Linked DNA regions of Homo sapiens. The protein of the gene in region 1 interacts with the protein of each later gene in a pairwise test. Each region holds a gene or a part of one and is shown in the gene's direction. Other genes may lie near its edges. The genes, in order: TBC1D30, SNAP23, KRT35 and GRIPAP1.

The links.
Region 2: the proteins of TBC1D30 (region 1) and SNAP23 interact in a two-hybrid assay, tested with the Homo sapiens proteins (one study listed by IntAct).
Region 3: the proteins of TBC1D30 (region 1) and KRT35 interact in binary tests that used the Homo sapiens proteins (3 or more experiments, as listed by UniProt).
Region 4: the proteins of TBC1D30 (region 1) and GRIPAP1 interact in binary tests that used the Homo sapiens proteins (3 or more experiments, as listed by UniProt).

Annotation. Positions count from the first base shown.
Region 1 is NC_000012.12:64,820,406-64,828,072, forward strand, and holds the start of TBC1D30 (TBC1 domain family member 30), read left to right. Parts: upstream 1-4,241; 5' UTR 4,242-4,474; coding exon 4,475-4,628; intron 4,629-7,429; coding exon 7,430-7,491; intron 7,492-7,667. UniProt on the Homo sapiens protein: May act as a GTPase-activating protein for Rab family protein(s).
Region 2 is NC_000015.10:42,505,566-42,513,046, forward strand, and holds part of SNAP23 (synaptosomal-associated protein 23), read left to right. Parts: intron 1-6,267; 5' UTR 6,268-6,281; coding exon 6,282-6,338; intron 6,339-7,389; coding exon 7,390-7,431; intron 7,432-7,481. UniProt on the Homo sapiens protein: Essential component of the high affinity receptor for the general membrane fusion machinery and an important regulator of transport vesicle docking and fusion.
Region 3 is NC_000017.11:41,477,905-41,486,241, reverse strand, and holds the start of KRT35 (keratin, type I cuticular Ha5), read left to right. Parts: upstream 1-5,090; 5' UTR 5,091-5,144; coding exon 5,145-5,615; intron 5,616-6,460; coding exon 6,461-6,543; intron 6,544-6,738; coding exon 6,739-6,895; intron 6,896-7,246; coding exon 7,247-7,408; intron 7,409-7,755; coding exon 7,756-7,881; intron 7,882-8,337.
Region 4 is NC_000023.11:48,977,821-48,985,301, reverse strand, and holds part of GRIPAP1 (GRIP1-associated protein 1), read left to right. Parts: coding exon 1-34; intron 35-1,431; coding exon 1,432-1,527; intron 1,528-1,861; coding exon 1,862-2,074; intron 2,075-2,209; coding exon 2,210-2,323; intron 2,324-3,429; coding exon 3,430-3,507; intron 3,508-3,610; coding exon 3,611-3,706; intron 3,707-3,829; coding exon 3,830-3,886; intron 3,887-3,987; coding exon 3,988-4,087; intron 4,088-6,866; coding exon 6,867-6,997; intron 6,998-7,481. UniProt on the Homo sapiens protein: Regulates the endosomal recycling back to the neuronal plasma membrane, possibly by connecting early and late recycling endosomal domains and promoting segregation of recycling endosomes from early endosomal membranes.

The DNA of each region.
Region 1 (7,667 bases):
CTGTGGGGGATGTCCTCAGGTTATTAGCTCTGTGACATTCGGGGCATTTCCTCAAAGCCTTCATTTTCTTTAGCAATCCAAATAACATTATCTCATCCAATGTGAAGTGTTCATTAAGCCTTCCTTCCCCTAAATTCAGCATAAGTCATAACCATTGTAGACTGTGGCAGTGTATAATTTGCCCAAATGTGAATTCACTATTATTTGATTGGTAAAGCTTGATTAGTAAAGAATAATGGTAAATTGGCCTGGCTCCTGAGATTCTCAGGCAAAGTCCATGCTGGCTTGAGTTCTCTGTAAGTTGACTTTAGATGACATCTTTCACGTTTGTAAAACAATATTCCAGACATGAAATAAAAAACTGTGAGTCACACAATCAACATAATACTAGGCTTGGGCCATCGCTGCTTTTAGAGTATTGTGTTTTAGTGCTCATGTAATTATCTGTTTGCTATAAAAGTTGGCAGTCCTGACTTTCCTCTCCAATGTAAACAAAATAATATTATCTAATTCCTTTGCTGTTTATTGCCATCATAGCAGAAACTCTTAAATTTTATTTTAAAAACAGAGTTAGATTTTCCTCGTAATAGATCTAAAAGAGGTGAAATTGAATGTTCCTTTTGCAAGCAAACAAGCTTCTGTCACTACTAGTAAAGAAAAGTATTACAAGTAAAGAAGAATCTAAAGAGAGGTCTTTTTATCAGTCATGACACATGGGTGAGTTGACAGCCTAGAGTCTAGATGTCAGCTTTGGCAGTCTGGAAATTTGGTGTCTTCAGGTTACTGACTGGTAAGTGAACTCAGGGGTATTGACTGCTATTAACTGGTCAGTATATTCTCTGTGCTGCAGCAGAGTCTATATGGGAAATCAAATGACAATCCAAAGTTTGCTTGGTGAGCATGACGTCAGAGCCAAAGGGAGTTGGATGGTCTGAGTGGCATATGTCACAGCCCCAGGGGCAGGACGTCCTCCTCTCCACTCCAGAGACAGTGTTGTAGAACAGAGCTGATTGCTTGTCCTCTTGGCTTGCCTAGTGATGGAAACCGAGCATGAATAGCCTCTCTTGTTAAAATAGAACACAAAACCCTCTAAGATTTGAGCATATGAGAGGTCTGGAAGACGAGACTGTGCATGCAGTTACCAACTTGTCCTGCTGGATTTTCCCTCTCCTGCCAGTTCCCTCTCTTTGACTTCGGGTGTTCATCACCATCTTCAGCCCCAGGGTATACTGTGCCCTCTAAAAAACTGGTCAAAGGGAAGCATCAGACCTCTTCCTATGGCTCTCAGTACAACTGAGATAGGCTGCAACAGCCAATGAGTGTCTTATTAAAATTAATACAAAGCTGAAGGATACAAACATGTACCAAAACTGTAAAAAGTTGATGGTTGATGGAGGATAAATTTCTGTACCGGAGCTCGCAGCAAAAGGTTGGGAAATTTAAGCCAAGCAATTAGTCATGACCAGCTTAAACAGTGACTTCATTTTCTAAAGTGATGCCTTTTCAAAGAGTACTGCCCTTTTGAAAGCATCTTTACCTCTGCCAGGCAGCTACAACTGAATAGCTTGCATGTCCTTTATTAGCCTGCTTTACTTTTGCAGATGGCTCATCTCATTTTTAATAGATTCTTTTACAGCTCATTCTTAGGGTTGCACCATTTCTGACATTGTCCTCAAATTCTGGGAAGCGTCATAGGAATGCCTTCTTTTTCTGGCTTGTTTAGGCTATCTTTATGAAGGCATTTAAAAATATTCAATATTTTTTCAATCAATAGCAGCCATTTTTTTTTCTTTTGATACAGGGTCTTGCTCTCTCACCCAGGCTGGAGTGCAGTGGCCAATCATAGCTCACTGTAACCTTGAATTCCTGGGTTCAAGTGATCCTCCTGCCTCAGCCTCTCAAGTAGCTAGGACTACAGGCATACACTACCACACCTGGCTAAGTTATTTTATTTTTGCAGAAACAGGGTCTTGCTATTTTGCCCAGACTAGTCTTGAACTACTGGCCTCAAGTGATTGTCCCACCTTGGCCTCCCAAAGCACTGGGATTACAGACCTGAGCCACAGCACCTGACCCAGCAATTAATTGCTTTTTGTTTTTGTTTTTACTTCTGAGGCAGGGTCTCACCATCACCCAGGCTGGAGTACAGTGGTGCGATAATGGCTCATTGCAGCCTTGACCTCCCTGGCCTCAGGTGATCCTCCCACCTCAGCCTCCTGAGTAGCTGGGCCTACAGGTGTGTGCCATCATGCCCAGCTAATTTTTGTAGCTTTTTTTTTTTTTTTGTAGAGATGGGGGTTTGCCATGTTGTCCAGGCTCAGCCATTGTTTTTCAAGTTCAAATTGTTTCATCTTTGGCCAATAGGAAGGAGCCTATTTATGTGACTCTTGTGTCTTTTTGACTTGACCCCATTAATTGTGAAACATTTCCTTTCTTTTTGAGCTCATCAAAATGTTTCAGGGTCATCTTGTACTTTTTCTGTCCCAAACCTGGAATCAGTCACTCCTCAAAGGAGCCTTAGTTCCTTTGAGTGGGGAATGGTTTTTAGAGACCATAACCTGGGTGCTGTGGGTGTTCATTGCTGCTGAGTTGTCCTTACTTCTAAACCTATTCAATGAATGTATGTATTTTTTTGAAAAGAAAAAAAAATGAGTTCATACTAGTGTTTCCCATATAAATATATAATTGTAATATTTTAAAGAAAACTTAATTACTTTGGTTATACACATATTTTCTATTACACTGAAAACATCTTGGCTCCATTTGATGTTAGCATACTTATTTATTTGCTTTATCCTGTAGTGGATATAAGAATTTAAGAAATATGAATATTATTAATAACAATAATACTACTGAATGAAATGTAAGGTTTCTTTGCAGTTTTATTTGCTCTGGGAATATGTACAACTGTTGATGTACAGTCATAATATTGTGTTCTATGTCAACTTAAGAGAGAATTATTTTTTTCTGTGTTCTTATGCTATAAGTGGGATAGTCCATTAGGTTGATTTGTTTCCATTAATTTTCAATTGTTAGGGTTTTCTTTTACAATTTAAAAATAATTTATTCATTTATAGTCAGGGACTAGGTCTGTTGCTCAGGCTAGAATGCAGGGGTGCAATCATAGCTCACTGCAGCTTTGAACTCCTAGTTTCAAGACATCCTCCTGCCTTGACTTCCCAAAGTGCTAGGAATACAGGTGTGAGCCACCGTGCCCAGACTATTTTATGTATTTTCAAATTTTATTTTTATTTTTATGTCTTTTTAAGAGATGGGGTCTCGCTATGTTGCCCAAGCTGGCCTCAAACTCTTGGGGCTAAGCAATTTTCCCACCTCAGCCTGCCAAGTAGCTGGGACTATAGGCATGCTGTTCCATCATCCTGGTTTTTTAAAAATTTAATTTGTTAATATTATTAATATAGTGTTATTCCAGAGCCAAAACTACAGGAGGCACATCAAGAGAGGACTCAGTTTTCCATTCTTGTCTCCTCCACGATGTTCCTTCTCCTATACAAGTTTTCTAATTTGTTTTTGGTTTATCCATTTAGTGTTTCTTTTTATAAATATTAGCAAACACAAGTATCTTTATATCCCCCCCCCACACCCTTTCTTTCATCCATTTTAATGGTAAATAGTCTATTGGTGAATATTGCCGTTTGAGAATGACTTTTTTTTTTTTAAACCATAATGATGGGCAATAGTTCAGAACTACTGAAGTCTGGCTGGAGAGATGAGGAACATTACTTTTTAATACTGCTTGAAAAGAGAACACTTTTTTTCTGGAAGCCCATTTTTCTAAAAGAAACAATAATTTTTTTTTCCTTCATTTTCTCCGCGCCTCTCTAATCTGCCAGGAAATAATTCAACGCAATTCGGGCTGAAGCGTGTGCCTCGCCGCCTGCGGTTGGGTCATGGCCCCTTCTGAGACTGCTCGGAAGTGGGAGAGGATGCTTGCCCTTACGGGTGTTCTGCCCCTGAGACTGGCGCCCCTTGGTGCTCCCTCTGTTCCCTCCCAGATCTTGGGAGAAGCACGGACATCTCTGTTTCTGCTTTTGGTCCCCGAACGCAGTTACGCGCCCACTGGCTCCCTGTCTCTGGCGCTTCTGGGCACGGGGGAGCTGGGGCGGCCCCGCCTGCGCACGGCGGTGCCGGGATTGGGGGCGGGCACGCCGCCTCCGTCTCCCACGCGCTCGCTCGCTCGCTCGCTCCCGCCCTCCCCGCCTCGAGCGATCTCCTGCCTCAGCCTTGCAGGCTCCGCACTGCAGATGCCTGCTGGCTTCCCTGCGCTCGGCGGCTCCCGCGGTGCCCCGTAAGTCCCCGTGACCCTCCAGCACCAGCCGGCTGTGCGCTCCCTGCTCCCACGGGCCGGTCAGCCGCAGACACTCACCCAGCTCCGCGAGCTCAGCCGCTCAGCGAGTGGGGTAGCGGGGACCGAGACGGACGGTAGCCGTGCCAGAGCCCGGGGCGCTCTCGGATGCGGCAGGACAAGCTGACCGGGTCTCTGAGGCGCGGGGGGAGATGCCTGAAGCGGCAGGGCGGCGGCGTGGGCACCATCCTGAGCAATGTGCTCAAGAAGCGCAGCTGCATTTCCCGGACCGCGCCCCGGCTGCTGTGCACCCTGGAGCCGGGTGAGGACCCCAGGGCTGCAGATGGGGCGCTGTAAAGTAGCGCCGGGGCTGCCCGCGCTTCTGCCTTAGCCTGACTCCGTCTAGGCCGGGGAGCTCTGGGGAAAGTCCGCGTGCCACCTGGTGCGGGGCACCGCGTTGGCACCTGCAGGGAGCGATTGGTCTGGAAGGGTAGAGGGCAGACGGGGGCCTGGGTGGGGCAGCGGCCACCCCAGGCGCGGAGAACCCGCTGCTTCCACCCTCTCCCCGCGGACCCCCACCCTGCGGCCTGTGTGCTCGGCTTTCTCCGCGTGGCGGGGAAGTGCGGGTGGCTGCCCGGGCCCTCAGAGGCCGCACCACCTATTGTGTTCCAGGCTCGCAGGAAGCCAGACCTTGCGAGAGGTGTGTGGGGGCGGAGAGTGGCACAGGTTTGACACTGCAGGTCGGAGGAGGAAGACAGTGGCTGCAAAGGCAAAATCGGGTGTTATTTTCCCAAGAGTCCCTTCAGCGTGAGTGCCGGGGTCAGCTCGAACTGGAGCCTGTAATTTGTGAGTGCGAGTGGGGAGCAGCAGGAGATCCTTTTCATAGGTGAGGTCCAGGAACGAGCCTGGTCGTGCTAGGCAAGGCCCTTCCCACTGTCAGCCTGTGTTTACCCATCCCTGCTTCTCCAGACTGCATAACTCCGTGTCGGCTCCATCACCCGGCATCCCTCCCCGGGATTTTAAGAGCCTGGCCCTAGCGCGGGCTCCTGGGCACGGAGGTTTCTGGCAAGGAGTGGCTGCAGAGGGAGTTGGCTGTACTCTCACTGGTGCTTGGCGCTCACCTGTTCCCTGGAGTGGCACCGGCTGCGTTCCAGGCGGGTTCACGGTCCCCGGCCCCCGCCCCCCAGCGCCAGCGCCTTGGGGACCTGCTGTAGAGCCGCAGGAGAATCGAGCTGCAGAGTCCCAAAGGGTGGGATGCGGCACTGCCTTTCCCAACCTCGTGGTTTCTTTGTTGTTCTCCCCTAGGAAGTGTCTAGTTGCAGAGGCTGTAGTATTTATTCACCATCTTCCTTTACCTCTTTTTTTTTTCTTTTAAATCTCCTTCCCACGTTAAAAGTAAGTGTTTTGTATTTCTGAATCCGGAATAGCTGTGATTATCAGATGAAACATAAACCTTCTCTCTGCCCGTATTCTGTTAGAAGAAAAGAAAAGTGGGGTGAAAGTGACCTGGTTTAAGCTTTTGCATGCAGGCGGCGAATCAATTTCAGTTAAATCCTCTTGCTCATTTTTGATCATGAGAGGATAGTTGTGGTTTTGGCCAACTAACCCCTGCTGGGTTTCACTATGAGAAGGCAATCGGCATGATGCCCAGCAGGTGCCCCGGAAAAGTCAGAAGAGCATATTGGTCAGACATACAGGGAATCCTTGTAGTGTGGCAAGAATAAGTCAGCGCGGGACCGAATTTCCTGGTCTTTGTTATCAAGCAAACGTCATGATTATACGCTCCTCCATTCAGCACCTCGCGTCCGGACAGCAACCTCACTTGTTTTCAGCGTGCCTTAAAGCGTGCGCTGGGCTGGAAACACTCCCGTGGCCGTTGTTATCACCGTTCTATGTTTGGGCAGGACTTCGTTTAAACCACCTCAGAGAGAGGCGGATCCATGTGGTACTTAATATTCCTTCGGAGAAAAAAAAAACTTATCTATCCAGGCAGAGTATGGTTATGGCCCTGAAGCTTTAAAAAGAAATATCAAGGCATTGATTGGATGCCTGGGATTCTCTGCCACAGCTTACTTTGGAAACCTAGGACCCAACTCAGGAATTTACAGCGCTCTTCCAGGGTTCCAAGAACACCTGCATACTGATATGGGCTTGCAAAAATCAGATACATCTCTTTCCAGCTTCTTGACTCCGTGTATATATATATTTTTTAAAAGACCAGTCTACTTGATTACTTACTATTATTTCATAAATTCTGAAGATTGCTCCTATTCATACCAACCACTAAGAAGTGGAAGTTGTGGAGAAGTTTTTAGTACACCTAATCTACAATCAACAATCTTAGAAACAAAAATGCCATCATTTGACTTTTGAAATTTGTAAAACTTAATGTTATTGATAGTATTTGGCATTTCTTGGTCCTTGAACTTTTGGGCAATAATTCCTTTAAAAAATGGGGCCGGGTGCCGTGGCTCATGTCTGTAATCCTAGCACTTTAGGAGGCTGAGGCAGGTGGATCACTTCAGATCAGGAGTTTCAGATCAGCCTGACCAACATGACGAAACCCTGTTCTACAAAAAATACAAAAATTAGCTGTGCGTGGTAGCACGTGCCTATAATCCCAGCTATTTGGGAGGCTGAGGTGGGAGGATTGCTTAAGCCCAGGAATCCAAGGCTGCATTGTGCTATGATTGTGCCTGTGAATAGCCACTATACTTCAGCCTGGGTGATATATTGAGACTGTATCTCTTAAAAAGAAGAAAAGGAATTGAGACTGAGATAGGTTAGATAAATTGTTTCAGTCTAGGAACCAAGTCGAATGGAGGACTGTATGACTCCAAGCCTGTGGTGTCATTTTTTGTTTTTGTTTTTGCTTTTGTGGTACTCCAGGCATCTATGTAAACCACCGTCATATGTAGTAAGGCACTTTCTATTGCTGTAGGGTATTTTCCTATTTTAAGAATCAATATGCTTACCTTTTGGCAAAATTGACTAAAATTTAGTAAAGATACATACTTTAAAAAAAATTGTGATGATTCAGTAGAATCAAGCTTTTACTAGTATTTTTGATATAACTTGTTATAGTCTCCAAAAATAACATCTATTTATGTATTTTTCTTTCAGGAGTTGATACCAAGTTGAAATTCACTCTTGAGCCATCTTTAGGTCAAAATGGTTTTCAGCAGGTAACTTTGATTTTGAAAACACTCTTCTTTTGGGGTTACCAACAGGGCACATTGAGATATATTCTCAAAGTGGAAATAACGTATTCTTTGATATGAATGTGAAGATGAGTCACTTCAACAATATTTCAGTTAAAGTAGCTTTTGAGCTACAAGTGGCCTGGGTTTATATTTGCAGT
Region 2 (7,481 bases), on another chromosome or scaffold:
TTTTTTTTTTGAGACGGAGTCTTGCTGTTGCCCAGGCTGAAGTACAGTGGCATGATCTCGGCTCACTGCGACCTTTGCCTCTCGGGTTCAATCAACTCTCCTGTCTCAGCCTCCTGAGTAGCTGGGATTATAGGTGTGCATCACCACGCCTGGCTAATTTTTGTATTTTTAGTAGAGACGGGGTTTCACCATGTTGGCCAGGCTGGTCTTGAACTCCTGACCTTAGGTGATCTGCCCACCTTGGCCTTCCAGAGTGCTGGGATTACAGGCGTGAGCCACCGCACCTGGCCTCTTGCTTGCTTGTTTTCTTATCTCCTCCCTTCCTCCCTCCCTCCCTTCCATTTCTTTTCCTTCTTTCTTTTCTTTTCTTTTTTTTTCTTTCTTTTTTATTTTTTTTGAGACAGAGTCTTGCTCTTGTCACTCAGGCTGGAGTGTAGTGGCATGATCTCGACTAACTGCAACCACTCCCTCCCGGGTTCAAACGATTCTCCTGCCTCAGCCTCCCGAGTAGCTGGGACTACAGGCGCCCACCACCACACCTGGCTAATTTTTGTATTTTTAGTAGAGATGGGGTTTCACCATTTTGGCAATGGCTGGTCTTGAACTCCTGAGCTTGTGATCCGCCAACCTCGGCCTCCCAAAGTGCTGGGATTATAGGCGTGAGCCACTGTGACCGGCCCATTTCTTTTCTTTCTTTGGGGTCTTGCTCTGTCAGGCAGGCTGGAGTGTAGTGGGGATCATGGCTCACTGCAGCCCTGAACTCCCAGGCTCAAGTGAACCTCCTAACTCAGTCTCCCAAGTAGCTGGGACTACAGGCACTGGTCACCACACCTGGCTATTTTTGTTGTTACTTTTTGTGGAGACAGAGTCTTGTTGTGTTGCCTAGGCTGGTCTCAAACTAGCCTCAAGCCGTTTTCCTACCTCAGCCCTCAAAAGTGCCAGAGTTACAGGCATGAGCCGCTGTGCCTAGCCAATAGACTTCTTTTCATTTTCTAAATTAATGTAGATTATTTTCAGCTTCTGAAATAATAGAAGACAGTTGAAAACCATGATTACTGTGGTCTATTTCTCCTTCAATTTAACTGTCTTCTTTGAGTCTGTAGAAGAGATAAAATTTCATGGTCTTATAGAAAGCATCTGAAATTTTGAAATGAGCCATCATATAGGATTGCTTGACCTATTTTCCAATATTCAGCAGCTCTCATATGATCTATTGTTTGTTAAGGGGGCGGTGGATACAGTCAACAGAAAAAACTTTTTTTTTTTTTTTGGAAACAGGGTCTTGGTCTGTTGCCCAGGCTAGAGCACAGTGATGCCATCTCGGCTCACTGTACCCTCTGCCTCCCAGGTTCAAGTGATTCTTGTGCCTCAGCCTCCTGAGTAGCTGGGACTACAGGCATGCGCCCCATGCCCAGCTAATTTTTTGATTATTTGTAGAGAACGGGTCTCACTATGTTGCCCAGGCTGGTCTTGAATTCCTGGCCTCAAGCAGTCCTCCTGCCTTGGCCTCCTAAAGTACTGGGATTACAGACGTGTGCCACCACTCCCAGCTCCAGAAAGACTCTTTATCAGACCATGAATTATACTTAATTTGCGAGTAGATCCCGACTTGAATAATCAATCTGCTCTTTACTGACACAGCCGCCTTGGGTAAGTTACCTAAACTGAGCCTTAGTTTCTCCATCTGTAAAATAGTATAATGAAGATAATGATGTAGATAAATACTTAGTAGGGTATCTGGTGCCTAAGAGGTACTCAGTGAACTTTTCTTTCCCTGCCTAGGTTTAAATTAGAAAAGAAAAAGGTCAAATTAGGAGTCTTTTAGTAAGCCCAAGTGAACCATAGCATGAGAAATAGGGTGTAAAAGCACTGAGAAAAATCTTGCATTTTCCTCTGAAAGGCACACTATTAGCATAGTATAAGTTCCCAGCAGCACTGGAAAAATGACACAAGTATTTAATAGATTAGATTAAATCTGAGAAAAGTACGTTTAATGGCATCTTTGTATCAACTGATGTTTTATTTTTCATCCCACCCCACCAGTTCTCTTTTCTGTAATATTCTGGGTAACCTTTTCCTGATTCCGTAAGGAAAATGTCTGCAGAGAATAATAAATATGAGTAAGGCTATGTAGCTAATTATAGGTTACATTCTCTCTGACTCGTCTCAGCAAACTTACAAAGACCAATAAGAACTTGAGGAGTATTATTCCTTGTCTGTCTTTGTCCTTCCCCTTACAATTCTACTTTGACTCTGTTACTTTCATATACAGTTGACCCTTGAACAACATGGGCTTGAACTGCGTGGGTCCACTTATAGGTAAATTTTTTTTTCAGTAAATACAATCAGCCCTCCGTATCAGCAGGTTCCACATCTATAACCAAATGCAGATAGAAAATATGGTATTCAGCCAGGTACGGTAGCTCATCCCTGTAATTCCAGAACTTTGGGAGGCTGAGGTGGGAGGATTGCTTGACCCCAAAAGTTTCAGAAGTTTGAGACCAGCCTGGATAACATAGTGAGACCCTGTCTCTATAAAACAGCTTAAAAATTAGCCGGGCATGATGCATGCACCTGTAGTCCCAGCTATTCAGGGGGCTAAATGGGAGGATTGCTTGAGCCTGGGAGGGCAAGGCTGTAGTGAACCTGATTGCACCACCGCTCTCCAACCTGGATGACAGAGTGAAGCCTTGCCTCAAAAAAAAAAAAAAAGAAAGAAAGAAAGAAAAGAAAATACGGTATTCATACATGCAAAACTCCCGTCTACAGAGGGCGGACTTTTATATCTGCAGGTTCCTCAGGGCCAATTGGTATCCACAGGCAGTACTGAATCCAACCCTCTGAGCGACAGCCACACTAAACTTGTGCTCAAAACCCTCAAGAACACAGAGTAATCTTAGGCAGCTGCATCCTGGCGTTAGCATGCCAAACTTGGGAGTAGATATCTGTTACTTGTCTTGCGTGTTGTCTGGTCAGGGAAGAAAAAAATATTAAGCAGAACTTCGAGTTCACATGGAAAGGATGTGTCCTTCAGAATGACCTCATTGCGATGTCAGGGGTGATTCCTCACGTTATCCATCTCCCAGTTATATCTGCTTTCTTTTTTCTTTTAAAGAAGGCAGCACAGAGGTCAGGAGTGCATTCACTCCTAACTCTGGAGTTTTGCTTTTTTTTTCCTAGGAAGCTAGCAAAGACTGACTTGTAATTGGCAATAATCACCTCTAGGAATAGAATTACAAAATTACATAATTTGTGATATTTGGGCTTCCTTACCCCAGAATGTCTCCCGACCCACAGGATACTATATCTGAAAACCTCACTAAGGGTGCCTTTTCCAGGCACTAATGGATTAGTGTATATTATTTTTCATATTTTCTTCTCTGTCGGGCATTGAGGAGTTACACATGACAGGAATAGATAACTTCAGAGCATTACTGCCTGGGGAGGGCAGGCTTTGGAGAGGTATCTCGGTTGGGGCTTTAGGAAGTGATGGAAAAGCATGAGGCTACCTGGGCAGATGTGGGGTATTATAGAAAGGAAAGGTGTGCAAAAGTGTGGAGGTGAGAGGGTACAAAAAATAATCTCCATTTACTTTTTGTAGTTGCAAATAGGAAAGAGTGACAAAAGAGGAACAGTAGCATGGACATGTGTATGTATGATAAAGCTTAAGACTCAAACAATTAGCAAATTAATAAAATACCTGGTTCCTTTTATGCTTGTATCTAATGAATGATATCTTTATATCTTGATTATATCTTAGTGTGGAAACTTTTTGCCTGAAGCACAGTCTATGGCAAGCAAGATAGAAACTTAAATTTGGAACTTAAAATGCTTTTTTTCATGAGCACTAATGGCTTTAATCAAGGCTCAAAATCTTTTTTTTTTTTTTTTTGAGATGGAGTCTCGCTCTGTCACCCAGGCTGGAGTGCAGTGGCACAGTCTTGGCTCACTGCAACCTCTGCCTCCCAGGTTCAAGCAATTCTCCTGCCTCAGCCTCCCGAGTAGCTGGGATTACAGGCGCTCACCACCACTCCCGGCTAATTTTTGTATTTTTAGTAGAAACGGGGTTTCACCATGTCGATCAAGCTGGCCTCGATCTCCTAACCCCGTGATCCATCCGCCTCGGCCTCCCAAAGTATTGGGATTACAGGCGTGAGCCACTGCGCCTGGCCCTCAAAATCTTAAACCATAAAACAGCTATGACAGTAGAATTATAAACAAGGCCAGGCACGGTGGCTCAGGCCTGCAATCTGGGCACTTTGGGAGGCTGAGGTGGATAGATCACCTGAGGTCTGGAGTTCGAGATCAGCCTGGCCAACATGGTGAAACCCCATCTCTACTAAAAATACAGAAATTAGTGGGGCGTGGTGGTGCATGCCTGTAATCCCAGCTCCTTGGGAGGCTGAGGCAGGAGAATTGCTTGAACCCAGGAGGCAGAAGGTGCAGTGAGTCAGGGTTACACCACTGCACTCCAGCCTGGGCAACAGAGTGAGACTCCATCTCAAAAAAATAAAAAAAATAACATGATAGTAGTGGTTCAATTAAAAACAACTGAAAAGATTTAAATTTTTTTGTTTGTTTGTTTTTTGAGATAGGGTCTTGCTCTGTCACCCAGGCTGGAGTGCAGTGCCATGATCTTGACTTACTTCAGCCTCAACCTCCTGGACTCAAGCAATCCGCCCACCCCAACCTCCCCGGTAGCTGGGACTACAGGTGTGCGCCACCATGCCTGGCTAATTTTTGTATATTTGGTAGAGATGGGGTTTTGCCATGTTGCCCAGGCTGAACTCCAACTCCTGAGCTCAAGCCATCCACTCACCTCAGCCTCCCAAAGTGCTAGGATTCCAGTCATGAGCTACCACACCCAGCCAAAAATGACTGAAAAGATTTATATGTGATCATATCATACACTTGCAATAGCAGTTTTTGGTTTGTGGCTCTAGTGATTCTTTGCGAGCTTTGTGCTACTGTTACATGCAGCTTTGTTTCTAAGAGCCATGTAAATACTTTGAGAGTACACCCTGTTTTTCTACTTATTTGTTCATTCAGCTATTTTTGGAGTATCTACCATCAGATCCTATTAGGTGTTAGAGATACAAAGATAAAATCTCTGCCTTCCAAGAATTCAGTCCAGTACATTCTTGGGGAATTAAGTTTTCTGCTTATCAAAGAGTATATCCATGGCAAGGTTTCTCACCTCAAATTGACATTTTGGGTCAGATTATTCTTTGCTGGAGGGCTTTCCTGAAGAGTGTTGTAGGATGTTAAGCAGTTTCCCTGCCTCTACCTACTAGATGCCATTAACCAGCCCCATCACCTGGCCCAAGTTGTGACAATCAAGCAACTCCAGACATTGCCAGATTCCTGGGGTCAAATCTGTAATAAGAACCAGAGTTTATCTGTGTCATTGACCGTGAGTTTTGATAAATGAGTTTTGAGAAAATTCATACAAAGCTAGCAAATGTAACAAAGAACCTAGATCCGTTGCACAATGCTTGTTATTACTCCACATGACTTCTCAAAGAGGAATTAGATAACAGCCGTGCTGAGTAACACCTACGAAATGTTTTATTTTTTAGCTTGGATGTCTATGAGATCTCCTTCTGAGTTACTGTGTATAGGAGAATAATTGTTTGGTTTCTTAGGGACTCCAGTAAAACAACAAAACAATATAAGCCACTGGAGGGGAAGAGTCTAATGCATAATAAAAACCTTAGTCTTTTCCGAGCTGTTTGTACCAGCATTTCCCTTTTCTTGTTAAGAGTGAAAGTATTTTCTCCAGTGAGTGTCCTGGACAACTGGCATATTTAGAAATGTTTCCTGTGTTCTTCAGGCACATAACTTCAAATTTTGTTACTTTACTAAATTGGACTTTTCTTCACCTACTGCTTTTCCATGTTCAGACAACACATGAAGAACATTGAACAACCAAAAATTCACTTTAATAGTCTTTTAATGCTTGTCTTCCAGTAATGCCTTGCTTCTCTAAGTAGAGGATCCACTTTCCTGTTGGAAAGAGTACTTCCCTAGAAGTCCTAAAACCTGTATTTTAGGTTCACCCTTGGCACTCTTATTAAACATTCATTTAGCCTCTCTCGGTCTTGATTTCTTTACTTGTGGTAGACTAATAGATATAGAAAGAGGTTCTTTTATCCTGTTTTCCTGATAAGTTCCTAAATTCCATAAATCTACACTTTTTGCTCACACAAACTTTTATATATCCTTATTCTTATACAATATCCACATTTCCATTTCTGTGCCTAATAGAGTTTTGATTCATCATGGATAATCTGTCATCAGAAGAAATTCAACAGAGAGCTCACCAGATTACTGATGAGGTAAATGTTTTACCTAAAATAAGTAAATAATTCTATTTCAGTTTTCATATTGGAGGAGTGAGAGAGCCTTCTTAGGGACATTTTGGCCTCTTCCTAGTCCATTAATATCAAAGAACACATTTGCTCCTTAGTGCCATTGCTGGTTTTTATTTTCTTTTTAACTCACCAGAAAACTAAAGTGAAAACAATTTGTATGATTTTTATTTTTTAGGTAATTATTAATATTACTTAAGTGTAACAAAGATACTCTACTATGTATTTGAGAAATGCTAGACTTCTATTTAACAATTTCCTAATATCTGTAATTTACTTAGATTTCTACCTACATTAAATTTTTATTCCCATGAACTTCACCATCCAAATATTCTCTTTTTTAAAAAAACTTTTTCTTTCAACATCACACTGGAAGTCCTTACACATTTTCTCTTAAGGAGCGCCTGAAAATAACTAAAAATGTAGTGATCAACTTACTTTTTTTTTTTTTTTTTTTTTTGAGACGGAGTCTCACTCTATTGCCCAGGCTGGAGTATAGTGATGCGATCTCGGCTTATTGCAACCTCTGCCTCCTGTGTTCAAGCGATTCTCCTGCCTCAGCCTCCTGAGTAGCTGGGATTATAGGTGTGTGCCACCACGCCCAGCTAATTTTTGTATTTTTAGTAGAGATGGGGTTTCACCTTGTTGGGCAGGCTGGTCTCAAACTTCTGACCTCGTGATCCGCCCACCTCAGCCTCCCAAAGTGCTGGGATTATAGGCTTGAACCACCACACCCGGCCATTGTTTTGTTTTAAAGGGAAGGATAGGCTGGCAATTCTTTTTGTTTTTTCCTTTAATGGAAACAGTCTCACTATGTTGTCTGGGCTGGTCTTGAGCTCCGGTACTCAAGAAATCCTCCTGCCTCGGCCTCCCAAAGTGCTGGGATTATAGGCATGAGCCACTGTGCCCGGCCTGAGCTGGCAATTTTTAAAGATAGAATAGCATCATGAATTTGGCCTGTGATCAGATTTTTTTTTCTACATATTTTGGAATGCTAAAATTCTGTGTTCTTTCCTAGTCTCTGGAAAGTACGAGGAGAATCCTGGGTTTAGCCATTGAGGTAAGAAAATGTTAGTCATCAACTTAAGTATAGAAATTTATAGGAGCGAT
Region 3 (8,337 bases), on another chromosome or scaffold:
TCCCCGTATTGTGTTTCCGGACTTAACTGTGCTTTTACGCCATGCAAAACCAGGTTTCCTGGAAATTTACCCAATAAAGTGTGTTCTCCTGGCATAGCAAACTCAACCCTGGCTGACTCTGTTGATGCTCATGTGCTCGTGTGGTTCATGGGGGTGTCTGATCAGGGGCTGCAGTATAGTTGTGGGGTTTCCATTTAGGTCTATCTTCTCGGGCTCTGAGTGGGAGGCGGTGGCAGGGTGATTTGAAGTATTTAATAACAAAGATGCCTCAGAGGCTGGCCAATGAGAACAGACACTGACCCAGTCTGGATGGGTGCGGCCATAGCTCTCAGCTTGGCCCTGCCTGTGAGTAGACACCTTAGGGCGGCCCCAGAAGAGGCAAAGGCTCCAGAGCCAGTCTTCATCCATAGCCCGACCTGGATTCGGTGGCTATCTCTCTTTTTCTTTCAGCTTCTCCTCTCTTGCCCAGCTGCTGTCACCCTGCTGCCTGATACTGGGGATGGTTAAGGAGAGGGGGTCCCAGGAACAAGCAGAGAGGGCCAAACACTAGGCAGCCATCCTCAGCCAGCCATGCCAGGGAGGGCAGTCAGGGAGAGCAGGGAGGTGAAGGTGGAGGGCAGGTGAATCCATGTCCCAACAAGGCACATAGGGCCAAACTGAAGGGTGCCAGGGACAGTGGGGTGGGGGTGGGTGCTCAGACATGGAGTCTGGGGAGAGGACAGCCAGGCTTCACTGTGGAGCAGAGTTCAGAGCCCTGGATTCCACTGGCTGAGTTAGGCAGGTCTGCAGGTGGGGCCTAACTCTGCCAGCTCTGGACACCCCTCTGATCAGAGAAGCATGGCCTGGGAGAGGTCTGAGGGCCTCACGGTTGGTTCCTTTGCCCCTGCTCCAGTCTTCACTTGAGAAAACAGGCCCAGAGAGGGCAGTGACTTGTTCCAGGCCACAGAGCAGTGAGTGGCAGAGACCTGGCCATCACCTGGCTATTCTGACCCTGGCTCTGGAGCTCTTCTCAGTACAATTTCTCTCTCTCTCTCTCTCTGTCTCGCTCTCTGTCTCTGTCTCTCTTCCCTCCTCCCCCTCTCTTGTGCTCACTCTCCTCTGGGCTCTCCTCTGGGTCATGGCCAAGACATCCATGACCTGGCTCTGCCTCATGTCATCAGCTACTTGCTGCTAAATGGGACTCTTCAATCACTTGCTGAGCAAGCCAGAGGTGCAGCAAACTTATCAGACAACAGGAGAAGACGTGCATAGGTAGCATCAGAGCATCCTGCACTGAGCCCGACTCTGCCACTCTGTGCTATATGCCCGGTTATGTCATGAGACCTCTCTGGTCTCAGCAGGTTCATCTGTGAAATGGGGCTGCCAGGAGGTTCTGATGAGACAGTGTGTGTGTAGCTTCCAAAAAGTGGTAGCTATCAGTGTTGCTCTTACTACAAATGCAGAGTCCCTGGCTTCAGAGTGTTGAACAGGAACCCCCACTGCATGGGCCAAGTGCTTTGCTTTGTATCTGGCAGGATGCTATGGTGAGGGCTGTGCTGCCAGCAGTGTCCTTGGAGCTGGAGAGTGAACCCAAAGGCCTCAGCCTCAGAGGATGCACCTAGCTTTGGGCAGGGGGGGCAGTTGGCATGGTTCTCTCACCTGCCCTGCCCCTTCCCTCTCACTGCTCCACTCATGCTCTAGGGCCTAAGTCTGCACCCCTGACCCTGGCCTGAGGCCAGTGTGTGACCAGGCGTGCACAGAGAGCATTGTACCTCTGTGCGGAAACAGGCAGGGGTCCAGGAATGGAACGAGTCTCCGGGAAACAGCTGAGCTGCCTTGTCACTGTGGATGAACCACACAGGGCATGACCTGATAAGTAATCACATCATCAGCACCTTGTGTTGTACAGTGCTTTCCCTTTTTATGATCACTCTCCAGTTTACAGGGCACACTCATAGCCTCATCTGATGCACGCAATCAGCCCTGTGTGGCTGTGAGCTCTTTATTTATTCATACTTGCCTAGCTTTTAATTACATTGTCCAGAGCATATGTATCAGTTAGGAAACACCTCCTATCTCAACCTCACACACACCCTTAACTGAGTTGCAATTGAAATCACTGACCAACAAGCAAACCAGAATTCAACAGTGTTGTGGGGGTAGGTGGCGACTGGTCTAAAGTCACACAGCAGGCGGCTGACTTAGGAGCCTTCTTAGGTCTTTGGGCTCCTATTTCATTGATATGGAGAGAGATATAGAAAACATTCAATAACATTTCCGCAGAGTGAATATGATGTTTTATTTCAAGGCGGTATGGTTTTTCTGATCCTTTTTGTACTTTCCAGATATGCTATCTGACTGCCTTTCTCATTCACATATACACATCAATTAATCAACAAAGAGATAACAACGGAACATGGCATACACAGCTAATCCAATCTTAAGGCTCAGGCCTATCTAGGAAGGAGCAGGGGTGGCGGAAGCGGCTGGAACAAAGAGTGGATAACAGGCACAATTCCCGAGGAGCTCACGTCCAGCTGTGGAGACACCTCGCCCCCTCGCTCCCAGCAACTGCACTGGGATAGCAGGAGCGGGTGTGGGCAGGGTTTCAAGTTTTGGGGAAGAGGAGAAATCACTGAGGGCTGGGGTGACCAGGAAAGGCTTTGGGGCAGATTTGGATTTGATGGGCAGAAAAAGGAGGAAGGAGGGCAAAGGGCATTTTAGGGCCGTATTTAGTGTATCCGTGGCATGATCTGGGGACAGCCTGGACCACATCTGAGCAGAGTGCAAGGATCCTGTAAGGAAAGTTACTAGGAATGTGCTAAACAATGTTAGTTCTTGCTGATAAGGGGTTCTAGATAATCATGTCATTTAAGAAAAGCATGCTAAAAAGGAACAGAAATAGATCAGACCAATTTACAAAATACCTTAAAACAGCTTGAAAAATATTACATATATGTTTTATAAAGTTATCTAAAAATCTTATCAAGAATTTTTTAGTCACAACTTTAGCACTAAATTGGTTTATGAGATCCATCTCCCTTGGGCAGAATGGCTTTTGGCCCAGAAAACACTTTGTTCTTGGCCAAAGGGGCTGGTTAGTCTGGACAGGTGCTGCTCACCTACACAGAGATGCCGGATCCCCTTCCATCTCTGAGTCTCAGTTTCCTCATTTACAAAAGTAGGAATAGTAGGCTGGGTGTGGTGGCTCATGCCTGTAATCCCAGCACTTTGGGAGGCTGAGGCAGGCAGATCACGAGGTCAGGAGATCGAGACCATCCTGGCTAACACGGTGAAACCCCGTCTCTACTAAAAATACAAAAAAAAAAAAAAAAAGAAAAATTAGCTGGGTGTGGTGGCGGGCACCTATAGTCCCAGCTACTCAGGAGGCTGAGGCAGGAGAATGGCGTGAACGCTGGAGGTGGGGCTTGCAGTGAGCTGAGATCGCACCACTGCACTCCAGCCTGGGCAACAGAGTGAGACTCCATCTCAAAAAAAAAAAAAAAAGAAGTAGGAATAGTTAAGATTGACTGTGTTTTCCTTTCCCCGCTCCCTACTCTCTTTTGTTTCCTCCCATTCTTTCTTTCCTTTCTTAACACAATTCACCGTGGGAAAAATCACTTAATTAATTAATTAATTCATAGACATCTAGAAGCCCTGCACTGTGCTTAACACTACAGAGATTTAAAAAAAAAGTACAAGGTCAATCCTTGCCCCCATGCTTACAGTCTCCCTGGGAAAATAGGGCTGAAACACAAGACAATCAGAAGACGTCAGTTAATTGGAGGCCAAGAAATCTACCAATAGTCACTGCCTTGGGCATTCAGAGCTGGGAGGGCACAGCAGGGCTGGAGCAGGGGCCAGACTTCGGGGGAAGGCCTGGCCAGGACTGGGCCCTTAGAGGCAGTGGGGTGGGCCTGTGGTTTGGAGCTGCAAGGCCTGGGCTTTAGCCTCCCTGGGAAGCCTGTGTGGACCTTGGGTAAGCCATTTTCTACTCTGACCATTGTCTCCTTCTGTAGGAGTCAGCACCTTTCTATCCACGACTGTGTTGGAGGGTGTGTGTGAGGCCTTAAAGAAGATAGCATGCCTTGAACAGTTGTACAGATGCTTTTTCAGCTGTGATCTGGGACAGGCTCCTGAAACAGTCCAAGCCTCCTCTATTTAATGGGCTATTGGTGATGCCAATCTCATGAGTTTGTGTGAGGACTGAATAAGAGAATGCATAGAGACAGATCAGCGTGGGGGCTGGTGGGTACTAAATGCTCAGTGAATGATGGTTGCTACCATCAGCCGGGTTATTGATAGGGCTGTGTGAAAAGAGCTCCAATTCAGGCAGCCAGAAGGAAGGGCTTCTCCATTTCTCAACCAGGGCTGGGGAAGACATGCCCTCCTAGATGTCATCATGGGCAGGTGTCCAATTAACTGATCTCTAGGCATTGTGGCTAGAACTTAGGCTCTACAACCTGCACAGACTTCCTGGCAAGGGAAAGAGTAGGGAAGTGTCCATCAGGGCTCTGCAGTATCTAGGGTGATAAGCTGTCCCATTTTACCGAGGACTGAGGTTTCCCTGGCATATGGAACTTTCGGAACTAAAGCCAGAAAATTCCTGGGGAAACCAAGAAAATTGGTCACCTTAGCCATATTTTCTGGGCCAATTCAAGAGCCTTCTGTGTCTCCCTGGCTGCAAGACCCCTGCCTTCCTGCACCAACCAAGTTTACCCTTCCATCTTCTGGGAGCACCCCAGAGACCTCCTCTACTCCCTCAGGCCAATAAAAGAAGTCAAAGTTGGAGAAAGTCAAGACAGTGGCTGAACTCCCATGCTTGCTTAATGCGGAGGCTGAGGTCTGGGCTCAAATGACAGGTCCCTTTGAAGAACTGACAGGGACTTGGTCTTCCCAGTGATGTGGGGTGGTGGAGATGAGTCTTGACATAGTAATGGGGCTCCTATTTTATGAGACTGGTAAATTTTCACAGGAAACTAAATAACAGGTTAATGAGGGGTTTTAATAGAAAGTGGTGTTAACTTTAATGAGGAGAAAACACTTTGTAAAGGCCAACCAATGCCCACTGGGGCAGAGATATAAATCTGGGGTAAGGAGCTGCTTCTCTGCTTTGGGGTGTCTGGCCTCAGAGACCTATCAATTGCATCTGAGTTGCAGGGGCCATGGCTTCCAAATGCCTCAAGGCCGGCTTCTCTTCTGGGTCTCTCAAGAGCCCAGGAGGGGCCAGTGGGGGCTCCACTCGTGTGTCCGCAATGTACTCCAGCAGCTCTTGCAAGCTTCCAAGTCTCTCCCCTGTGGCCAGAAGTTTCTCTGCCTGCTCAGTGGGTCTGGGCAGAAGCAGCTACAGGGCCACCAGCTGCCTCCCTGCTCTCTGCCTCCCTGCTGGAGGCTTCGCTACCAGCTACAGTGGGGGTGGGGGCTGGTTTGGGGAGGGCATCCTCACTGGCAATGAGAAGGAGACCATGCAATCCCTGAACGACCGCCTGGCCGGCTACCTGGAGAAGGTGCGTCAGCTGGAGCAGGAGAACGCCAGCCTGGAGAGCCGCATCCGTGAGTGGTGTGAGCAGCAGGTCCCCTACATGTGCCCTGACTACCAGTCCTACTTCCGGACCATCGAGGAGCTCCAGAAGAAGGTAAGAGGTTCAGAGTGGCTTTGGATTCCCAGGAACTTTGTGTCACCAGCATTCATTGGTAGTTCTGTTCCCATAGGGCATGTTGGAAGTCACCAAGCATGTTCATCTCTGTGGCCTCATTTGCTCCTCCCAATAACCTTAAGAGGGAGGTATCATTAGCCCATTATACAGTTGAGAACACTGAGATTCAGGCTGGGTAAGCGACCCAGATGGCAGTTACTGGAGCCAGAGCTTGAACATCAGGTCTATGAATGAACTCTGTGACCTTTGGTGGTATTGCCCAATCCTCTGAGTCTTCTGAGTTTTCATTTCCTCTTTTATTTAAAGTCAGGGGATTGGGTTTGATGTATTTAGTGCAGTGCAGTTCAGGCTTCCCATAAGTAACTCAGGGAAGAAAATGCCTGTCAGAGAAGTTTCTTTCTTGCCAAGGGCCCATATCCACTTCTCGCCTGGCCCAAAGTTATAGCTGGCTCCTGTGAGGGACCATTTATGACCAGAGAATCCCGGGGTATGTTGTTGGCAATGAAATGCCCTGGGCCCCCAGTAGGCCTGGGAGACAGGGAGATTGGAAGAAGCCTCATTTCATCATGCCAGGCCTTTCCTGTTGCATTTTCATGCAGCTATCTAACCTGAGTAACAGGTCACAGATACACTGCACTGGAAGAAACCCTGGACTTTCCATAGTTGATCCCTAGAGCCTGCCCATAACACTCCAATGCACATGGAGTAGCAGAGGTCTAGGATGGGTGACTTCCTCCTTCCAGAGTCAGCCCTTGTCAGCTTTAGGGAGCTCCAACAAGTGGAATGTCCTTTCTTGCAATGAAATAACTTCTTCATATCTCCAGACTCTATGCAGCAAGGCTGAGAATGCCAGGCTGGTGGTGGAGATTGACAATGCCAAATTGGCTGCAGATGACTTCAGGACCAAGTGAGTTGTCCTGCTTGTCATGTGGTTGGGGGCTGCTAGAACTGGACACAGGTGATGCCTGAGCTCAGGGTTTTGGCTGTACTCTGTCATTGGGGCATAAAAGCAGGACTCACAGCACCTGGACAGTCTGAGGGCAGGCCTGACTTAGATGCAAAAAGGAAATGCAGACTCAGGTGCCCTGTTCTATGCCTGCAGGTATGAGACGGAGGTGTCCCTGCGGCAGCTGGTGGAGTCAGACATCAACGGCCTGCGCAGGATCCTGGATGACCTGACCCTGTGCAAGTCTGACCTGGAGGCCCAGGTGGAGTCCCTGAAGGAGGAGCTGCTCTGCCTGAAGAAGAACCATGAGGAGGTGAGCATGGGGGAAAAGGTGAACACGGCACAGCAGGTGAGCATGGGGGAGGAGGTGAACATGGGGAGGAGGTGAGCATTGGGGATGAGGTGAGCATAGGGGGAGGTGAACATGAGGGAGCAGGTGTGCATAGGGAAGAGGAGGTGAGCATGGGGAGCAGGTGAGCATAGAGAGCAGGTGAGCATGCAGAGGAGGTGAGCATGGGGAGGAGGTGGGCATGGGGAGCAGATGAGCATGGGGAGGAGGTGAGCATTAGGAGGGGTGAGCATGGGGAGGAGGTGAACATGAGGAGGAGGTGAACCTTGGAGGCAGCCCTCTGGGAATTAGTACTCATCCTGGTCTGTGCTATAGGAAGTGAACTCACTGCGCTGCCAACTTGGTGACCGCCTCAATGTTGAGGTGGACGCTGCCCCACCTGTTGACCTGAACCGAGTTCTGGAGGAGATGAGGTGCCAGTATGAAACCCTGGTGGAGAATAACCGCCGGGATGCTGAAGACTGGTTGGACACCCAGGTAGGTACCTGGAAACAGTCAGTGCAACAGGGGTATGTGGTGGCTCACATGGAAGTGACCCTGGGGCTCTGAATCAAGAAATCTAACTTTGAGTCCCATCTCTGTTTTGACCTTGCTGACAAGGTCAAAACAGACCCACTTCAATTGACCTTGCTGACAAGGTCAAAACAGACCCACTTGGGCAGGTTGCTGTCCTCTGAGCAACAATGCCCTCCAGTATAAAATAAATGAGTGGGACTGGGGAATCGGGAATGTCTTTCTTGGCTCATGATTCTAACCGGCCTCTGTAGCTCTCTGAAGCCAAGTCCCTGGTGTGGCTGACCAGGTTCTGTGTGTGTATGTTTCAGAGTGAGGAGCTGAACCAGCAGGTGGTGTCCAGCTCAGAGCAGTTGCAGTCCTGCCAGGCAGAGATCATCGAGCTGAGACGCACGGTCAACGCCCTGGAGATTGAGCTGCAGGCTCAGCACAGCATGGTGAGCCCCAAGGCAGGGTGGAGCTGCCTCTGGACCAAGCCGAGGAGCACACAAGCTCCCCAGCTTCCATGCTTTGACCACACAGGCGGACTCCAGGGGTCCATGTTCTTGAGCACCAGGGGTTCTCTATGCAGAAAAGAGGGAATGAGGGACCAGCTCCAGTCACAAATCCCCCAGTGGTAAAGGACAAGAGACCTGTAGCAACTGACATGTCCAGGCAGTAGGTCCTATATTTGTGCAAGCAGATACATCTTCTGAGTAACTATCAGTTACTCAGAGATGACACTAACAGGGAGATACTTTCTAGATCAAAGAAGCCACAGGGGCTAATTAGCTCATCTCAAGTGAGATGTCTGATTGTGGTTCATCCTAGCTCAAACTCTGATTCTCCGAGCTTCTGTTCTTGGATTCTGAGGCCTCACTGAGACCCAGATTCCTTCCTTGCTCCTTCTCTGA
Region 4 (7,481 bases), on another chromosome or scaffold:
GGGACAGAAAGATGACCTCAACTCCCAGCTCCAGGTAACACCTTTGGCTCTGGCCTGTCTCTTCCTAGTTCCCTAGTAATGGCCCAGTGAAGTCCCCAGTAAGGTGGAGTGGGAAGACTGGAGTCAGGAGGACCTAGGTTCCAGTCTGGCTCCCTAACTTATTAGCACCTGTGTGTTCTGGGACAAGTCATTTCACTTCTCTGAAACTGAGCCTCTTCAGTTAGTTAGGATATCAATTCTTTTTCATTTTTTAAATTTTAATTTAATTTAATTTTTTTTTGAGATGGAGTCTTGCTCTGTCACCTAGTCTGGAGTGCAGTGGCGTGATCTCGGCTCACTGCAAGCTCCGCCTCCCGTGTTCTCGCCATTCTCCTGCCTCAGCCTCCCGAGTAGCTGGGACTATAGGCGCCTGCCACCATGCCCAGCTAATTTTTTGTATTTTTAGTAGAGACGGGGTTTCACCGTGTTAACCAGGATGGTTTCGATCTCCTGACCTCGTGATCTGCCCGCCTCGGCCTCCCGAAGTGCTGGTATTACAGGCGTGAGCCACCACGCCCGGCTCCTTTTTTTTTTTTTTTTTTTTTTTTGAGATGGAGTCTCACTCTGTTGCCCAGGCTGGAGTGCAGTAGCGCGATCTCAGCTCACTGCAACCTCCGCCTCCTGGGTTCAAGCGATTCTCCTGCCTCAGCCTCCGGAGTAGCTGGGATTACAGGCGCCTGGCACCACGCCCAGCTAATTTTGTATTTTTAGTAGAGACGGGGTTTTACCATGTTGGTCAGGCTTCTCAAACTCCTGACCTCAGGAGATCTACCCGGCTCAGCCTCCCAAGCAATATCCATTCTGATTCCATAATAGAAACCAGAATAATAGTAGATTAAATAAGATACAAATTTAGTTCCCTCTCATTAAAAGTCCAGGTAGGTTATTCAGGGATGGAATGATGGCTTTCCAGTCATCTGTGACCCAGGTTCTTTCTCCATTGCTGTTCCTCCACCTTCAACACAAGACTTTTATCTTGGCATCCAAGACGGTTGCTGAAACTCCCCGACCATCATGTTTGTATTCTATCTGGAAGGAAGGAGGAAAGGGGCAGGGAAGAGTGTGCCCCTTTCCTTTAAGAGCATAACCTAAATTACACTCACCACTTCCACATACAGAAATAAATCACATGGCCACACCTAACCATAAGGGAGGAGGGGAAACATCTGCTAGACAGCTGTATGCCCGATGATAAATTTTATTGCTAGGGAAGTAAGGAAGAATGAATACTGGGGAGCAACTAGCAGTCTCTGCTATATTTCCTATCCAGAAATTGAGATCACAATACCAACTTTACCAGGGAGAAGGGAGATGGTCTACCAGATGGTCCTGGGTGACTAGCACCTACTGGATGCTCTTTATCAAACTCTTTCCCTTTGGTGTCTGCATTAGGAGTCATTACGGGCCAATAGTCGACTGCTGGAACAACTTCAAGAAATAGGGCAGGAGAAGGAGCAGTTGACCCAGGAATTACAGGAGGCTCGGAAGGTAGGGGAACATGAGGGTTGAAGGGAGAGGATGGGGGGTAGGAATTGGCTCAGTCCATGGGGATGGGAGGAGGTGATATAACCAAACATGTGGGGATAGGAGGGAAAGGAAAATTGACTGGTTTCTGGTTGACCAGTTTCTTGGCCAAATCCATGAGAGTGGGAGGGGAAAGAAAGAAAGTGACCAGTTCTATAAGGATGGGTGAGTGCCTTAGCCAGTTCAGTGGGGATGGGAGGGAGTGGAGTTTGGCTAGTTCCTTGGGCATGGGAAGAGGGTTGGAGGCCTTTTTTCGATGTTGTGGAAGGAAGTTGACTGCCATCGTCCTGGCCCCCAGAGTGCGGAGAAGCGGAAGGCCATGCTGGATGAGCTAGCAATGGAAACGCTGCAAGAGAAGTCCCAGCACAAGGAAGAGCTGGGAGCAGTTCGTCTACGGCATGAGAAGGAGGTGCTGGGGGTGCGTGCCCGCTATGAGCGTGAGCTCCGAGAGCTGCATGAAGACAAGAAGCGTCAGGAGGAGGAGCTCCGTGGGCAGATCCGGGAGGAGAAGGTGGGTGGGTAGATGATGATGCCCTTCTTCCTCTAAAACCTGGGAACCACAGCGTTGCTGATAGGCCAGTGGGTGGCATGCATCAGGTGCCCGCTCCTCTGCCTTCCTGGCCCATGACAGTCTGCCCCATCCCAGGCCCGGACACGGGAGCTGGAGACTCTCCAGCAGACAGTGGAAGAACTTCAAGCTCAGGTACATTCCATGGATGGAGCCAAGGGCTGGTTTGAACGGCGCTTGAAGGAAGCCGAGGTGAGTTGGTGATGCCTGGTGAGGAACAGAGGCTGATTGGGGCCCTCATGTCAAACCACAGAAGCAGGAGTGGTCAGGCCCTGGAACTTCCCGAGATTTTCTGGACTTAGGGATATCCCCACAGTCCCCTGGCTCAATAGCAGCCCTCTGGAGTGGATCAGGGGATGGCCATCAGATAGGACAGACTGTCACGTGTTAAGGCTGCCCTGCCTTTGTGCAAATTTGGAAAGGCACCTCTTTCTCCTGAAACTGTACTTCTGTCAGGAAATTAATGCAATACACTGATGTTATTGAACAAGAACCTGCTGGGTGCGGTGGCTCACGCCTGTAATCTCAGCACTTTGGAAGGCCGAGGTGGGCGGATCACTTGAGGTCAGGAGTTCAAGACCAGCCTGGCCAACATGGTGAAACCCTGTCTCTACTAAAAATACAAAAATTAGCCGGGCATGGTGGCTGGCGCCTGTAATTCCAGCTACTCAGGAGGCTGAGGCAGAAGAATCACTTGAACCCAGGAGGCAGAGGTCGCAGTGAGCTGATATCGTGTACTGTACTCCAGCCTGGGTGACGGAGTGAGACTCTGTCTCGGAAAAAGAACCTTTGTTGCCATTTTCTGGAAATCTCATAATACACTGAAAGGCATTGTCATGTAGCAGTGAAGAGCACAGGCTGGAGCCAGTTGTTTGTCTAGGTTTGAATCCTGGCTGGGCCATTTCCTAGCTGTGTGACCTTGGGCAAGTTATCTGACCTCTCTGTGGCCTGTTTTCATCAATGGTAAAAAGGGGGTAACAATAATATCTACCATCTAGGTATTACGGGAGGATTATAGAAAATGAGTTAATATATGTAAAACCCTTAGAACATTCTTGGCATGTAGTAAGCGCTATGTTTTGTTAAATAAAATAAAATGTAAATGCAAATCTAAGTCAACCATGCGAATGGTGCAACTTTAGATGTGACACTTCAGCATATTGCCTAAGGGCGTGTGGGGTTCCCTGCAGGAGGGTCATTTCTGCATACCTCTGGGCCCCCATTGCAGTCCCTCATACCCCTAACTGGGCATGATACCTTCTGGGGGGCTGTGGCCAGACCTGGGACTTGTCTTGTAGGAATCCCTGCAGCAGCAGCAGCAGGAACAAGAGGAAGCCCTCAAGCAGTGTCGGGAGCAGCACGCTGCCGAGCTGAAGGTGCCTCTCGCATGATGGTGTTCCTCTCTCCAGACAGTGACGGGCCCTCCTGGGAGGACAGAGGCTTCCCAAGCCAATGCCTAAGCTGCTTTCTGCTTTGCAGGGCAAGGAGGAGGAGCTACAGGATGTACGGGATCAGCTCGAGCAGGCCCAGGAGGAGCGGGACTGCCACCTGAAGACCATTAGCAGCCTGAAGCAGGTCAGTGGTCACTGCACAGCCCCAGACACACCCCTGATCCTCAGCGTACAGGAGGGGCAGGGAGGGAGCATGCTTCAGGCAGCCCTTCCGGCATCTACCAGCCATGCCTGCTTTCTCCCACAGGAGGTGAAGGACACAGTGGATGGGCAGAGGATCCTGGAGAAGAAGGGCAGTGCTGCGGTAAGACAGAGCGGTGCCCAAGCACGGCTCCCTCCTACCTGTAGCCTCCCTCCTATGGGCCCACTGGGCCTCAGTCCTCATGTTACCCCTGTCCCCCACAGCTCAAGGACCTCAAGCGGCAGCTGCATTTGGAGCGGAAACGGGCAGATAAGCTGCAGGAGCGACTGCAGGACATCCTCACTAACAGCAAGAGCCGCTCAGGTGAGGGACTAGGACAGGGAGAGGAGGCTGAGGCATGGGGGAGGTAGGGCCTGGGCCTGCAGGCTGCAGGTTAGTCCTGCATCTTCCTCAGCTGTGCTTTCCTGCTTCTGTCGCTCTGGAACTCCATCTTTTACCTTTTCTCTGTCTCTCCTCTGATTCTTTCTCTGCATTCTCTCTTTATTTCTATCTTTCTCTCGTTTTTGCCCTGTCTCTTCTCTGTTTCTGTCTCTGCCTCTGTCTCAGTTTGTTCTCTCTCTTTCCTCTATGTTTGCCTTTATCTCCTTGCTTTCTTTCTCTAGTTTTCTCCTTTTCTCTCTCTTTTTTTTTTTTTGAGACAGAGTTTCGCTCTTGTTGCCCAGGCTGGAGTGCAATGGTGTGATCTCGGCTCACCGCAACCTCTGCCTCCTGGATTCAAGCAATTCTCCTGCCTCAGCCTCCTGAGTAGCTGGGATTACAGGCATGCACCACCACGCCCAGCTAATTTTGTATTTTTAGTAGAGACGGGGTTTCTCCATGTTGGTCAGGCTGGTCCCGAACTCCCGACCTCAGGTGATCCGCCCGCCTCAGCCTCCCAAAGTGTTGGGATTATAGGCATGAGCCACTGGGCCCGGCCCCCGCCCTTTCTTTTCTCTGTCCCTTTATCTCTTCCCGCCACTCTGTGTCCTCTTCGTCTCTTCTGTTTATATCTCTGTCTGTCTCCTCACTGTATGTACTACATTACACACTCCCACACCTCACTTGGCATTTCTAAATCTATTGTATACAATCTCTCATTCTATAAATCTCCCTGCTCAAGTACAGGGTCCCTGATATAAAACTCCCTGAGTCTCTGCCCTCTAGAAGCCCCCAGTTGAGCTACGGAGACAGACTTATACATAGTCAGCAACGCTGTGGTGTTTTCATTATACAGCTAATCCAATCTGTTATTTCTGCCACTTCAAGCAGAAGACACACACACACACACACACACACACACACACACACACACAACTTTAGTTGCTTCAGCCTTTTTTAAGACGGGGATGGCCTATAAATACATTTAAGTAAGTAAAATGCAGTGATGGCTCTGGTGCATCTCTTAGATTACAGACTCAGAGAAAACTTGGTCCCTTATTCCCCCACTCGGGATACCTACGGATCCCCACTCAGTCACCCCACCCTTGCCAGAGATCCTCGAGGGCTTTAAGTGATGTGGCAAAACAGATGTGTATCTCTCACCAAATCAATTTCTCTCTGAGGCACTCGGTCTCCTGAAGTAACCTTTCTTTAAAAAGGAGTTTTGTTTCTGTTTTATCACAGATGAATGTAAGAATCTTGGGAAAGGTGTAATCCCAGCACTTTGGGAGGCCAAGGTGGGTGGATCACCTGAGGTCAGGGGTTCAAGACCAGCCTGGCCAACACGGTGAAACCCCGTCTCAACTGAAAATACAAAAAATTAGCTGGGTGTGGTGGCGGGCGCCTGTAATCCCAGCTACTTCGGGAGGCTGAGTCAGGAGAATTGCCTGAACCCAGGAGGCAGGGGTTGCAGTGAGCCGAGATTGCGCCATTGTACTCCAGCCTGGGCGACAAGACTGAAACTCTGTCTAAAAAATAATAATAATAATAATCTTGGGAAACGTTACAATCGTATACCATACATTCAATACATTCACCTTGTCCATTAGATTAAACTGAGATTTAGGTGCGTGGGTACGAGAGCCTGCTTGCATTTCTTTTTTTTTTTTTTTTTTTTTTTTGTTAGACGGAGTCTCGCTCTGTCGCCCAGGCTGGAGTGCAGTGGCGCGATCTCGGCTCACTGCAACCTCCGCCTCCCGGGTTCACACCATTCTCCTGCCTCAGCCTCCCAAGTAGCTGGGACTACAGGCACCCGCCACCACGCCCACCTAATTTTTTGTATTTTTAGTAGAGACGGGGTTTCACCGTTTTAGCCAGGATGGTCTCGATCTCCTGACCTCGTGATCTGCCCGCCTCGGCCTCCCAAAGTGCTGGGATTACAGGCGTGAGCCACCGCGCCCGGCATCTTTTTTTCTCTCTGTCTCTGCTCTGGCTCACTTCTTTCACCAGGGTCTCAGTTTCTATCATCTGCTCTGGCTTTCCATCTCTGGCATTTTCTTTCTGCAAGTGGATGTGCCCTGTGCCCTCTCTAGCTGTCTTCCTTTCTCTGAACCCTGTGTCCAAGTGTGTCTGCCACTTGAGACCCATGTGTACCCATGTCGTTCTCTTTCTCCAACCTCTTCCATTTTCTCCCTCTCATTTTGTATGTGTTTCTCCAGAAAGGCAGCTCTTTCTTTTCTTTCTGTTTTTTTTTTTTTTTTTTTTGAGACAAGAGTCTCACTCTGTCACCCAGGCTGGAGTGCAATGGTGCGATTTCGGCTCACTGTAACCTCCGCCTCCTTGGGTTCAAGCGATTCTCCTGCCTCAGCCTCCTGAATCGCTGGAATTACAGGCACACACAACCACACCTGGCTAATTTTTGTATTTTTAGTAGAGACGGGGTTTCTTCATGTTGGCCAGGCTGTTCTCGAACTCCTGACATCAAGTGATCAGCCCACCTCAGCCTCCCAAAGTGCTGGGATTACAGGTGTGAGCCAGTGCGCCCAGCCTCAGCTCTTTTTTCTGTCTCTGTCTCTCCCTGTCCTCCTGTCTGCTTCTGCCTTTCCCCATGCCCAGGTGTCTCTCTTTCCATCTCTGTTAAATCTATTTCTGCCTCTTCCTGCTGGTTGCTGCCCTGGGACTCAGGGGTATTGGGGCTCAAGTTTCTCTTCCCTCCACCACCCAGGCCTTGAGGAGCTGGTTCTCTCAGAGATGAACTCACCAAGCCGGACCCAGACAGGGGACAGCAGTAGCATCTCCTCCTTCAGCTACCGGGAGATCTTGCGGGAAAAGGAGAGCTCGGCTGTTCCAGCCAGGGTAAGGGGAAAGGAAGAACCTACAGCTCCAGCTTCTCTCAACCCAAAAATCTGAGAACCCCTCCCCTTTTCTCCTCACCTAAACCCATCTCCTACTTTGGGCGCAGCACACATATTTTCTTGTCAACTTTTCCCCAAGCCCACCAACTTGGATTCAGATTGCGACATGCAGGACAGGCCAGTCATTCTCTCTCTCTGACTTTCTGTTTAATCATCTGTGGGCTAATTCCCCCTTCTCTGGTGCCATAAATTATGTGGCTCATAGTAGGTGCACCATCCAAGGAGAAGGTCCCTTTTTCCAACTTGTAATGATCACTAATTATTATTGCCGGCTGTCATGTCAGCCTCCTTACCAGCCACTTTCCTTTGGAAATAACTTTTTTATTGTTCCACAAATAGTATGTGCTCATTGTAGTACATTTTTTAAAAACCACAAATGAGCAAAGATTTTTTTAAAACCTTAAATGTCTGGCCGGGTGTGGTGG